2 separate regions of the Homo sapiens genome follow, and region 1 is linked to region 2. Evidence: fine-mapped expression QTL. A gene starts in region 2. The other region holds a variant in brackets. All regions are shown on one strand. Distances are from middle to middle.

What was found. PIP is the estimated chance that this variant, and not a neighbour inherited with it, causes the effect. A credible set is the group of variants that fine-mapping cannot tell apart.
Region 1: its variant is the best candidate, but not a certain one, in a credible set for the expression of CD151 in whole blood (INTERVAL, PIP 0.83).

What each region holds. Positions count from the first base shown.
Region 1 is chr11:855,696-861,199 of GRCh38, forward strand. All of the region lies in intron 3 of TSPAN4 (tetraspanin 4), which reads left to right. Among named protein-coding and RNA genes, the nearest start is that of TSPAN4, 16 kb to the left of the region's middle. RefSeq lists enhancers at 3,230-3,763, 3,764-4,297, 4,298-4,830, 4,831-5,365. The variant G/GCACCCCGCTCACA (reference allele first, on the strand shown) is at 2,939.
Region 2 is chr11:830,474-835,601 of GRCh38, forward strand. It overlaps CD151 (CD151 molecule (Raph blood group)), which reads left to right and starts at 2,479. Exons shown (of 9, transcript NM_004357.5): 1 at 2,479-2,553; 2 at 4,057-4,118. It overlaps CRACR2B (calcium release activated channel regulator 2B), which reads left to right. Exons shown (of 9, transcript NM_001286606.2): 6 at 148-240; 7 at 393-559; 8 at 751-822; 9 at 1,062-1,513. The coding sequence ends at 1,236. RefSeq lists silencers at 1-302, 2,155-2,804, 2,815-3,044 and enhancers at 642-1,181, 1,182-1,719, 3,876-4,415.

The DNA of each region.
Region 1 (5,504 bases), 25 kb after region 2:
TAAGGAAACAAATCACAGCGAGCCACACAGATTGTAAGTGGACAGACTTGTCATCCCTGGAAACCAGCATCCCAGCCATGACGGGGACGTTCCCGCCAGCCCAGAGGGTCCTGAGGCTGTGCTGGCTGCTAGCATCCCTGTGTCTGGACAGAGCCCTGGCCCCTGCAGGGACCCAGCCCCCCATCCTATTCCAAGGACGTGGCTGGCAGCCCAGCCATCTGCCACAAAGCCGCATGGCCAGAGGGGCAGTGGGCTGAGGGCTGAGAGCTGGCCAGCGTGGCCCCCGTGGGCCCGGAGGGAGCATACTCGATGGACTCCAGTGACTGCACCCCTGCCCAAGGCCTACAGGAGGCTCAAGGGGGCCGTCCCGCAGCACCTGCCCAAGAGGCTCAGGTGGGCTGTCCAGACTGGAAAAGAAGGGCAGAGCAGAGAATGCATGGGCCTCAGCAGCACCTGCACACGCCCAGCGCTGGGGGACGGCCCCCCGAGCCTCTTGGGTGGGTGCTGAGGGACGGCCCTCCAAGCCTTTTGGGCTCCTAATCTTGGGCAGAGCCATCAGTTGCTGCTGAAGATCAGGGTGAGCGAGTGTCTGATGGACTGAGCCTGGGGCCTGGTATGCTGGACGGACATTGGCCAGAGATGGTCTCACGCAGGTCCTGGGGACAGGTTCTGGGCAGTGGACAGTGTGAGCTGATGTCTGGGAGAAGGACAGGCCCCAGGCACCGCTGACTGGAGGTGAAGAGGTCTGGGACGGAGCCCCTCTCCTGGGCTGTTCCCCCAGCTGCCATCATTCCTAGGGTTCCTCTCCCCAGCTGTCATGGGGCGGGGTCAACCTCCCACCTGAGCTTGTGTCTGGCCTGCGGCGGGGCAGCAGTGAGGGAGGGAGGCTTTCAGCCTATTCCTATTTGTATTGAGCGTGTGGGGAGGGAGCTCCTCTGGTTTCCGGGTCCAGGCCCAGATGCTGGGTGGGACCCTGGGAGGGTGCGCAGGCTGCCAGCCACACCCCTAGCTGCTCCCCATCTGGCTGCATTTGACCAGAGGGACCTGGCCCTCCTGGCCTCAGCCCTGCTCATCCTGCTTTTGATTTTCTGTCTCCAAGCTAATGGGGCCCATTTTCTCTTGCGCTTTGAGGCTATAATTTTCCTGCCAAAATGTTTTAAAAGCTGCATATGCAGAAACACTTTCAAAATTGCAGGTAATTTTATTAACCACGTGCACGCATTTTATCTGTGTGGGTCTGCCAGCACGCTGGGGCCTCGGGGCCCGGGGGACGCCAGGTTGCAGGGCGGTAACGCGCGCGTGTGGCCACGTGTGATGGTGTGAGGCGTCTGTGGCAACGTGGGCTGTTGTCTGTCACAGTGTGTGTGACCGAGCCCGTCTGGTGACAGTGGGTGTCTCTTTCCTGCCGTCTCCGGTGGAGGTGAGGATGTTTCGTGGAGTGTTAATTAGGGAAATCAGTTCCCACCAGGGCTGGGGCAGTTGTGGGAGGGGCCCAGGGCTGGAGGTGTAGGGTTCCTTCCTGCCCAGCCCCCATGGAACGGGGTTTCCCACACCTGGCATGGCACCAGTCACTCTGCACATGTCCTCCCTGTGTCCTTCGACACATCCCCATGGGGCGAGGGGAGCTTGGAACAGCTCATTTTCCTGATGACAGGAGAGGTCTGCGTCCTTGGAAGGCAGAGGCAGATGGAGCAGGCAGTTTGGGTTTTTTTTTTTTTTTTTTTTGAGACGGAGTCTCACTCTGTCGCCCAGGCTGGAGTGCAGTGGCATGATGTCTGCTCACTGCAAGCTCCGCCTCCTGGGTTCACGCCATTCTCCTGCCTCAGCCTCCTGAGTAGCTGCGACTACAGGTGCCTGCCACCACGCCCAGCTAATTTTTTGTATTTTTTAGTAGAGACGGGGTTTCCCCGTGTTAGCCAGGATGGTCTCCATCTCCTGACCTCGTGATCTGCCCGCCTCGGCCTTCCAAAGTGCTGGGATTACAGGTGTGAGCCACCACGCCCGGCCCCAGTTTGGGTTTTAAATGACAGTTTTCTCTGTTGTGCTAGCACCTCCCCTCAGTTCAGGGACCTTCACCCCCAGCCTGGGCATTTCGTCTGGAATGAGACTTGTGGGGTTGCTTGGCGCTTGAGGCCAGGATGTACTCTGAGCTGCTGATGGCCATCTCCTCTCCTGGGGCCTCGTTTCCCTCTGACCTCCTGCCCTCATCACCTGGTGATCTGGACCCAGGGCCATATCCCTTCTCTGCCCAGTTCTTGGGGCAGTGATGGTGTCAGGCCGTTTGTGGGTCCCCCTGGTGCCCTGTCTGCCCCTCCACAAGACCTGGGAACTGCGGGAGGATATGGGGACAGCCCAGGGGCAGGCTGGGGTTCCTGTGTGCTCGGGAATGCCCCTCAGTTCCGCATGGCCTTGTCTGTACATGGTGTGTGTGACCTTGTGCCCGACGGTCTGGAGGGACCATTGAGTGGGCCATTGCCTGTCCAGGCCTCTCCTGTGCTCCAGAATGTTACGAGGGACACCTCTCCAAAGGGGTGGGTGGGGGCGCCGCGTTCACAGTCAGCACCCTGGACAGCCCATCCCCCAGCTGCTGGTGCATCCCATAGCAGGGCCAGGTCCCCCGGGAAGTGGGGGCATCTTTGTAGAGCTGGCAGACCCCTGCCCACCCTGGGGCTGTGCCCCAAGCCCAGTGCTCCCAGTGAGGACAGATTCTCTTAATTAGGGATGTCCCCTGGCACTTCTGCCACGGAGCTGGCCTCTGGTCCTGCACACTCCAGACACATCCACCCTGGCTCACACACACCCTGGCTCACATGCACCCCGGATCCCACCCCCGCTGACACTCACCCCGGTTCCCATGCACCCCAGGCTCACATGCACTCCCGGCTCACACGCACCCCTGCTCACACGCACTTCGGCTCACACGCACTCCGGCCCACAC[G/GCACCCCGCTCACA]CACCCCGCTCACACACCCTGCTCACCCAGTTCCCACGCACCCCAGGCTCCCACGGACCTCCGCTCACATGCACCCCGGTTCCCACACACCCCAGGCTCCCATGCACCTGGCTCACATTCACGCCCGCTCACACGCACCCCGGCTCACATGCACCCCCGCTTGCATGCACCTCGCCTCCCACCCCCGCTCACACGCACCCCCGGCTCGCATCCTGGGCTCCCATGCACCCCCGGCTCCCATGCACCCCTGGGTCACACGCATCCCCGCTCACACGCACCCCAGCTCTCACGCACCCCCGGGCTCACACCCCCAACAGCTTGCACCCCCGGCACACATGCACCCCGGCTCACACGCACCCCTGGGTCACACGCATCCCCGCTCACATGCACCCCAGCTCTCACGCACCCCCGGGCTCACACCAACAGCTTGCACCCCCGGCACACATGCACCCCGGCTCACACGCACCCCCGGGCTCACACGTGCCCTGGCTCACACGCACCCCTGGGCTCACATGCACCCCGGCTCACACGCACCCCAGGTCACACGCATCCCCTCACATGCACCCAGGCTCACACACCCACCCCCAGCCCACACTCATCCCCGCTCACACACACCCCCACTCACACACACCCTGGCCCACACGCACCTTGGCTCACGTGCACCCCGGCTCACACGCACCCCCCCTTTCACACGCACCCCGGGCTCACACGCACCCCGGGCTCACACGCACCCCCCCTTTCACACGCACCCCGGGCTCACATGCACCCCGGCTCACACGCACCCCCTCTCACACGCACCCCGGCTCACACGCACCCCCCTCACACGCACCCCGGGCTCACACGCACCCCGGGCTCACACGCACCCCGGGCTCACACGCACCCCCTCTTACACGCACCCCGGGCCCACATGCACTCCGGCTCACACACACCCTCACTCATGCACCCCGGGCCCACACGCACCCCAGCTCCCATGTACCCCTGCTCACATGCACCCCAGCTCCCATGCATCCCGGGCTCACACACAACTTGACTCACACGTCTCAGGTTCATGCATCCGTCCCCTGGTGCGTCTCCGGGCCGCCCTCCACCGGGCTGTGCTGGCTGCCACCCCCAAGCCTCTTCCTGGTCTCCTGGGAAGCCTCCCCTATCACCCTAAGCTGCTTCTGGGGCTGGCTTTGCTCAGAAGCCACACCCAGGCTGGGCACTGTGCCCAGGTCTCCTATTGGCTCCCTGCAGCCACGAGGGGCTGTGTGGTCAGAGCCAGCAAGTCAGCCCCTGCCTCGGTACTCCCAATCCTGGGGCCCAGAGCACAGGGGTGACCCCTCTTCCTGCACCCAGTCTGTCCAGCTCCCCTGTGCGCTGTGCCTGGCCTGCTGGGGAGGGGCTCTGGGCGTGGGTGTCAGAGCTCAGCAGGCACCAGGAGCCAATGGCTCAGCAGAGCTTCCCAAGATAGGTCCTGCGCTGGCAGCCTCCGGACAGCGTTCTGTTTTGAACTTTAAGCGGAGATGCTACCTCTGGAAGGCCGGGGAAGGACAGAGCCTGCCTTCTCCCCAGGATGGCCTGAGCGTGTGTGGGACTTGTGGGGCCCCAGCAGTGGGGGGAATCTGCTCTGAGGGGATTTTACCCTGTGGAGCCCAGAGGGACCGAAGACACCAGTGACAGGCCTGGCCTGAATCTTGGGGCACCAGCAGCCATGCTGGCCCTTGGGCAGGGAGCTGTGTCCCATCTCCCCAGCACAGCCTCCTGCCTGCCAGCCAGCCAGTAAAAGGGTGGCGGCCTCCAACCTCCAGCCTGGCGCTGGCTGATGCACTGCTCAGGGAGGGGCAGGTGAGCGTGCACACGAGGAGGGGGCATCTCCCACCCCCAGGCCCCCTGAGGCAAGAGTGTTGGGGCTCATGGGCCCTCCGTGGGCCCTGCCAGGGTGGAGGCCCCAGGCCTGTCTTGAGCTGGGCTGGTGTTGCAGGTGGGGGTGGGGCGGCTGCTGGTGGCCAGCAGCTATCCCAGCCTTGGTTTCTGTCTGGAAAGTGGGGTGTGAGTCTGGCCACTGGGGCTTGGGAGGCTTTTATGGGGTGACTTGGGGCTTCTGGTAGTCCCCCGGGAACCCCCAGAGCCTGGGGTCTGAGCCTGTCCTCAGGCATGTGGTCTGGGTGCTCCAAGGGGTTTCATCAGGTTGAGGGGTGGCTTTGCCAGCCCATTCCCAAGTCCTGTCCAGTCCAGGGTGGGGCAGGGATCCCCCAGGGCTGCGCGGCCCTTCCCCAGAACCAGTCAACCGTCGGCACCCCAGGACGTCTACCCACCACCCACCTGGGCACCCACGCTGCAGACCGGGAGCTGGTCAGCATTTTCGGGGGACTGCTTGTCCCGTGCCCAGGCCTGGAACATATCTCCCGTCTCATCCTGAAACGGCCCAAGCCCGAGGCCTCTGTCTGAAGGTGGGGTCCTGGCGGACCCCTGCTTCCCTTGAGGCCTTGCTGGGCCAGCAGCCTAGCACCCTCTCTCTGGGCGCAGCACCCCCTCGTCTCCCCCTGCCTCTTCCTGTTTTAATTGATTTTTATAAGAACAAGCA
Region 2 (5,128 bases):
CCACTGGGCCTCACGTATCACCCCCGTCCGGTCTTCTCCACCCGACCCCGCTCCGCCCGGGCCCACTCCCAGCCCCTGGCCCTCCGTGTACCTCTTTTGCATGGCCGAGCGGCCGGCGGAGGCTCAGTGGTCCTCCGTGCGTCCCAGAACTTCGCCCGCGGGGAGCGGAGAAGCCGTCTGGAGCTGGAGCTGCAGAGCCGCGAGCAGGACCTGGAACGCGCGGGCCTGCGGCAGCGGGAGGTGAGCACCCGGCCCCTGCCCTGTCCCCACGGTCACCCGTGCACTCTCCCCCTGTGCCTTAGCGTCCCCGGGTTGTCGGGAGCCTGGGGCACGCGCAGCACCCCGGGGAAGAGGGGGCGTTCCTCGCCGGTCTCCATCCTTCCACCCTCCAGTTAGAGCAGCAGCTGCACGCCCAGGCTGCGGAGCACCTGGAGGCACAGGCCCAGAACTCCCAGCTGTGGCGGGCGCACGAGGCGCTGCGAACGCAGCTGGAGGGGGCGCAGGAGCAGATCCGCAGGCTGGAGAGCGAAGCACGAGGCCGCCAGGAGCAAACCCAACGGTGCCGTGGGACGGGGCTGGGCGGGCCCCGGTGCGTGTCCCGGGGGCGGGGCCGACGGGCGCTCAGGTCTGGGCCACTTTCATCCCCATCTCAAGTCCCAGGCCCGCCCCGTGGGAAGGAGGATCTTCTAGGGGGTCCGGGGGCTCCCCAAGGAGCCTTCCTGCAGCCGGGTCACCACCTCCCATCCACAGAGACGTGGTCGCCGTCTCCAGGAACATGCAGAAAGAGAAAGTCAGCCTGCTACGGCAACTGGAGCTGCTCAGGTACGGTCAGGCTCAGGCCCGAGAGGGAATGGGCTCAGCGGAGCTTGGGGGCTCCCAGCTCCCCAACATTCTTGGCTGCCGCTCTACTCCATTGGAAGTCCTTCCTTATGCCTGCCTTTCACCCCTCACGCTGCAGCCTCAGCCAGACACCTCTCTTCGCTCTGAGGGGAGTCGGAGCTCACCTCCCCCCACCTTGAGCTCCCTCAGACCCTCTCAGTGTCGGACTCCTCCTTCCCTAGGGAGCTGAATACACGGCTGCGGGATGACAGGGACGCCTGCGAGGCCAGGCGGGCGGGCAGCAGCTGCAGGAAGGCTCTGACAACAGCCCGCCTGCCTGGGCCCACCTGCTGCTGCTGCTGTTGCTGGGCTCGGCCCCCCAGACGCGGCTCTGGCCACCTTCCCAGTGCCCGGTGACCAGCCCCGAGTGACTCACGGACCATGAGCTAGAAGCTGCCCTTGCAGGAGGCTTGTCATGGGTCGGGGGTGCCCACTCAGGATGCAGGCTCTCCCCAGTGGGCCCCAGGCTCGCCTGACTGAAGACATGAAGGACCTAGCCTAGGAGTGGTCAGGGTCCCGGGAGTGGCCAGGGTCCCGTGTGTGCCCTCTGCCAGTCTTCGCTCTGTCCCCGTTCAATCAACCCCATCTCAGTTCAGCAGAAAACCCCCTCGTCAAATAAAACCCACTGACTGCACTGCGTCCTCCTGGGCCTTCCGTGTGTCTGGGAGCCACAGCCTGTGTGTGCCACATGGATGAGGTGGGCACCTGTGCACGCGTGCTGTGTGGGTGAATACAGGGAGCGCGGGCCTGTGGCGATGGGGCTGAGGTCCTGCGTGTCCTCTTGTGTCCCTGGTCATGCCCCAAACTCACACTACCCATCAAGGCTGGAGCCCCTCGGGGCCCTCGCCAGTGTGTGGATCAGGGCTCCCCACTGTCTCGCCAGGGAGGCCGGGCAGGTTCCCGGCCTCAGTCGGCCACCCCCTCCCATGCTGGTCCTCCCCTGTGGCTGTGATGAATGAGCTTGGTGGGTGGGCAGCCCCCTCCTTCCTCACTCCCACTCTTGGCGTCTTGGTGCAGCCCTAGGCCGGCCCTGCCCTTCGTCCCTCACCTCCTCGCACCGCTCCCAGTGGTCCCTTCCAGTCTGGAGGGCATGGGCCCCCCAGGACCCCATGGGTATGTCTCGCTGGGACCCCAGGCCTGCCCGGGTCTCCAGGCTGTCCACACTGCACGTACAGTAGCCCTTCTCCCGCATTTGCCCACAGCGCTAGGCCCTCCCACGCCCCAGGCCGGCATCGGTTCTGCCGACCCCTGCAGCCTCTGGGCGGTTCCTGGGTGAGGAGAAAGAGATGGGGGTTGGGCATGGAGGAGGGCCGGGTCGCCACAGCCCAGGGCCTCTGGCTAGGCTGGTCGCCGTCTTACCTCCGGGCCCGCCTCCCGCCCAGCTCCTCCGTCCTTGGACGGGATGGGCCCTTGCTGGGCTATTGGCGCCCCCAGGGCTGCAGCTCGCCCGGCCTCCGCAGTGCCAGGTCGACCCCCAGCGCCTACACCCACGCGGGTTCAGACCTGCCGAGCGCCCGCCGCCGCGGGAGGGGCTTGAGGCCGGGGCGGGGCCGGGGCGGGGCGGGGCGGGGCGTCCCCCTCGTAGGCTCCGGGCCGCGCATTCTCAGCGCTGGGAGCCGCCGCCCCCGCAGCTGCTGCCGCCGCCGCCAGGGCCCGGACTCGGACGCGTGGTAGGTGAGTGCGCGGCCACGACAGCTCGGCCGAGCGGGGCGAGCGGGGCGAGGGGGGCGAGGGGCGCGAGGGGGGCGAGGGGCGCGAGGGGGCCGAAGGCCCTGCGCGCCCCAGCCCCGGAGGCCCAGCCGCAGGCGCCGGGAGGTTCCGGGAGGCCGCACCCACCGCCTGGCCCAGCTCCCTCGCCTGCCCCAGCTCCCTCGCCTGCCCTTCCGCGGGAGGCGGACTCCGGGCGGGTTGGGGAGGCGCAGCGGGAAGGAGAGGCGCCTCCCGGGCCCTTGGACCGGCCTGACGGCCCCCTTCAGCCCAGGGGTCCCGGGACGCGCAGCCTGGACACCCTGCTCATTGTCCCTGGACACGGCAGTCTTCCCTCCGCCCGCAGCAGCCCCCGCCCGCGTGCAAGTGGGCGCGCCATTGGCCGCGCCGGGCGGGGTCGGCGGCGGCGGTGACCTCATTGCAGTGCCCCGGGGACGCTTGGCAGGCGCGGAGTCCCAGGTCCCCCTGACTGGGGCTCCCCCTGATAGGGCGCGGGCCGCCCAGGGGCCTGGTGCAGGTCCCGGGGACTTGGGGAGGAACAGACAACTATTTCTGGAAGGCCCTTTCCCAGGGGGTCCAGAGGGACCAGGCATTCCTGGGAAGAGGGGCCACTCCTCAGCGGGTCGCCTGTGTCCTCGCGGTGGAGGACGCATCTGTGCCCAGAACCAACTTCTCCAGAAAGCCTGGGACCTTACAGCCAGGCCAGGGGCAGGTCCTTGAGGGGCTCACACATCCCCCCATCGGTGGCAGACGCACACCCCGCCCCCCGGTGGCAGACACATCCCCCCGCTGGTGGCAGGGTCTGCCTGTGCCACCCTTCCTGCGTGTATTTAGGCCCTGGCTCCTTCATGGAGGGTGAATATCCCCTCTCAGCTCAGTGGTAAGGTCTGTCCCCCTCCAGCTCCATTCCATGATGCCTCTTTCCCAGGCTGTAGCTGCCGCTGTTTGTGGGGGAAGGGCCAGTGATGGGTCTGGAGCGAAGGCCAAGAGTGGGGCACCTGGGGGAAGGTATGAGGTCCCTCCCAGGATCAGACTGTCCCGAAATGTCGTCTGCCTTGGGAGGCCAAGGCGGGTGGAACATCTAAGGTCAGGAGTTCGAGACCAGCCTGGTCCACATGGTGAAACTCTGTCTGTACTAAAAATACAAACATTAGCTGGGCGTGGTGGTGGGTGCCTGTAATCCCAGTGACTCAGGAGGCTGAGGCAGGAGAATTGCTTGAACTCAGGAGGCGGAGGTTGCAGTGAGCTGAGATCGTGCCATTGCACTCCAGCCTGGGTGACAGAGCGAAACTCCATCTCAAAAAAAGAAAAAAAGAAAAAAACAAAATGTCTTGTGCCTTGCCCCACCCTAGCCCAGACTAAAATACCGGGCTTGGCCACTCCTCTCTCTGCCTCCAGAATGAACCCGGCCCACTCTGGCCCTTGGGCCAGACCTGTAACCTGTGACCTGACATGTCCTTGCCCCTCTAGCCTAGAGTCCTGGGGAGCTTCTGTCCACCTGTCCTGCAGAGGAGTCGTTTCCAGCCCGGCTGGTGAGTGCTGGCCAGGGTGGGGCAGAGCAGGCGGGGCGGCGAAAGTCCAGACCTGGCTGTGCTGTCTGGAAACGTGGCCCAGGGCGCTCAGCTGCTGTCTGCACCCCACGCCCTCCCTGGCTTCCCCATGCTCACAGCTTGCCCACTGCTGCAGGTCGGGCGGGCACGGGGCATCTGGGGAGGGGCATAGCCTGTCTGTGCTGCCCCCTCAGGTTGGTGTGGGTCGCCTGTCCAGGAAAAACCCTCCCAGTCTGCCAGGCTCCACCTGCCTCCACGCTCCATTCTCCCCACCCCGGCCAGGATGAAGGAAGGGCTGCCCTTTAACAGACCGTAAACAGGCCTGGAGAGCTTAGGAAGGGGCTGAGCTGGGGCCTGTCTGAGCCCCTACCCCTCTGCTGTCTGAGTGGCCTCCTCCGCCCTTACTGCAGGCCCATAGGCTCCTGCCAGCCTGTGACGTGCGGCCCCGGGAATGCCGTGGGGAGCGGGCAGGCTGGCATGAGCTCACCGGAGGTACCCGCTAGGGCTTCCTCCCCCGGCCGCTAGCAGGGGTGAGTCAGCAGTGATGGCGGGAGGTCCTCCATGACCCCTGTCCTGTCTGTGGGCACCAGGGGTCTGTCCTGGCTGTCAGGGCTCCTGAGTCGCTAGGAAGTGACACGTCCTGTTCCCACAGGGGCTCATTCACAGGCCTCCCAGGACAGTGGCTGGCTCTGCCCCGACTTCTGGGCTGGCTTGGGTATCTGTGTCCCCTCTTTTTTTTCTTTTTTATTGAGATGGAGTCTCACTGTCGCCCAGCCTGGAGTGCAGTGGCACCATCTCGGCTCACTGCAAGCTCCGCCTCCCGGGTTCATGCCATTCTCCTGCCTCAGCCTCCCAAGTAGCTGGGACCACAGGCGCCCACCATCACGCCCAGTTAATTTTTGTATATTTTTGATGGAGATGGGGTTTCACCACAATGGCCAGGCTGGTTGTGAACTCCCGACCTCAAGTGATTGCACCTGCCTTGGCCTCCC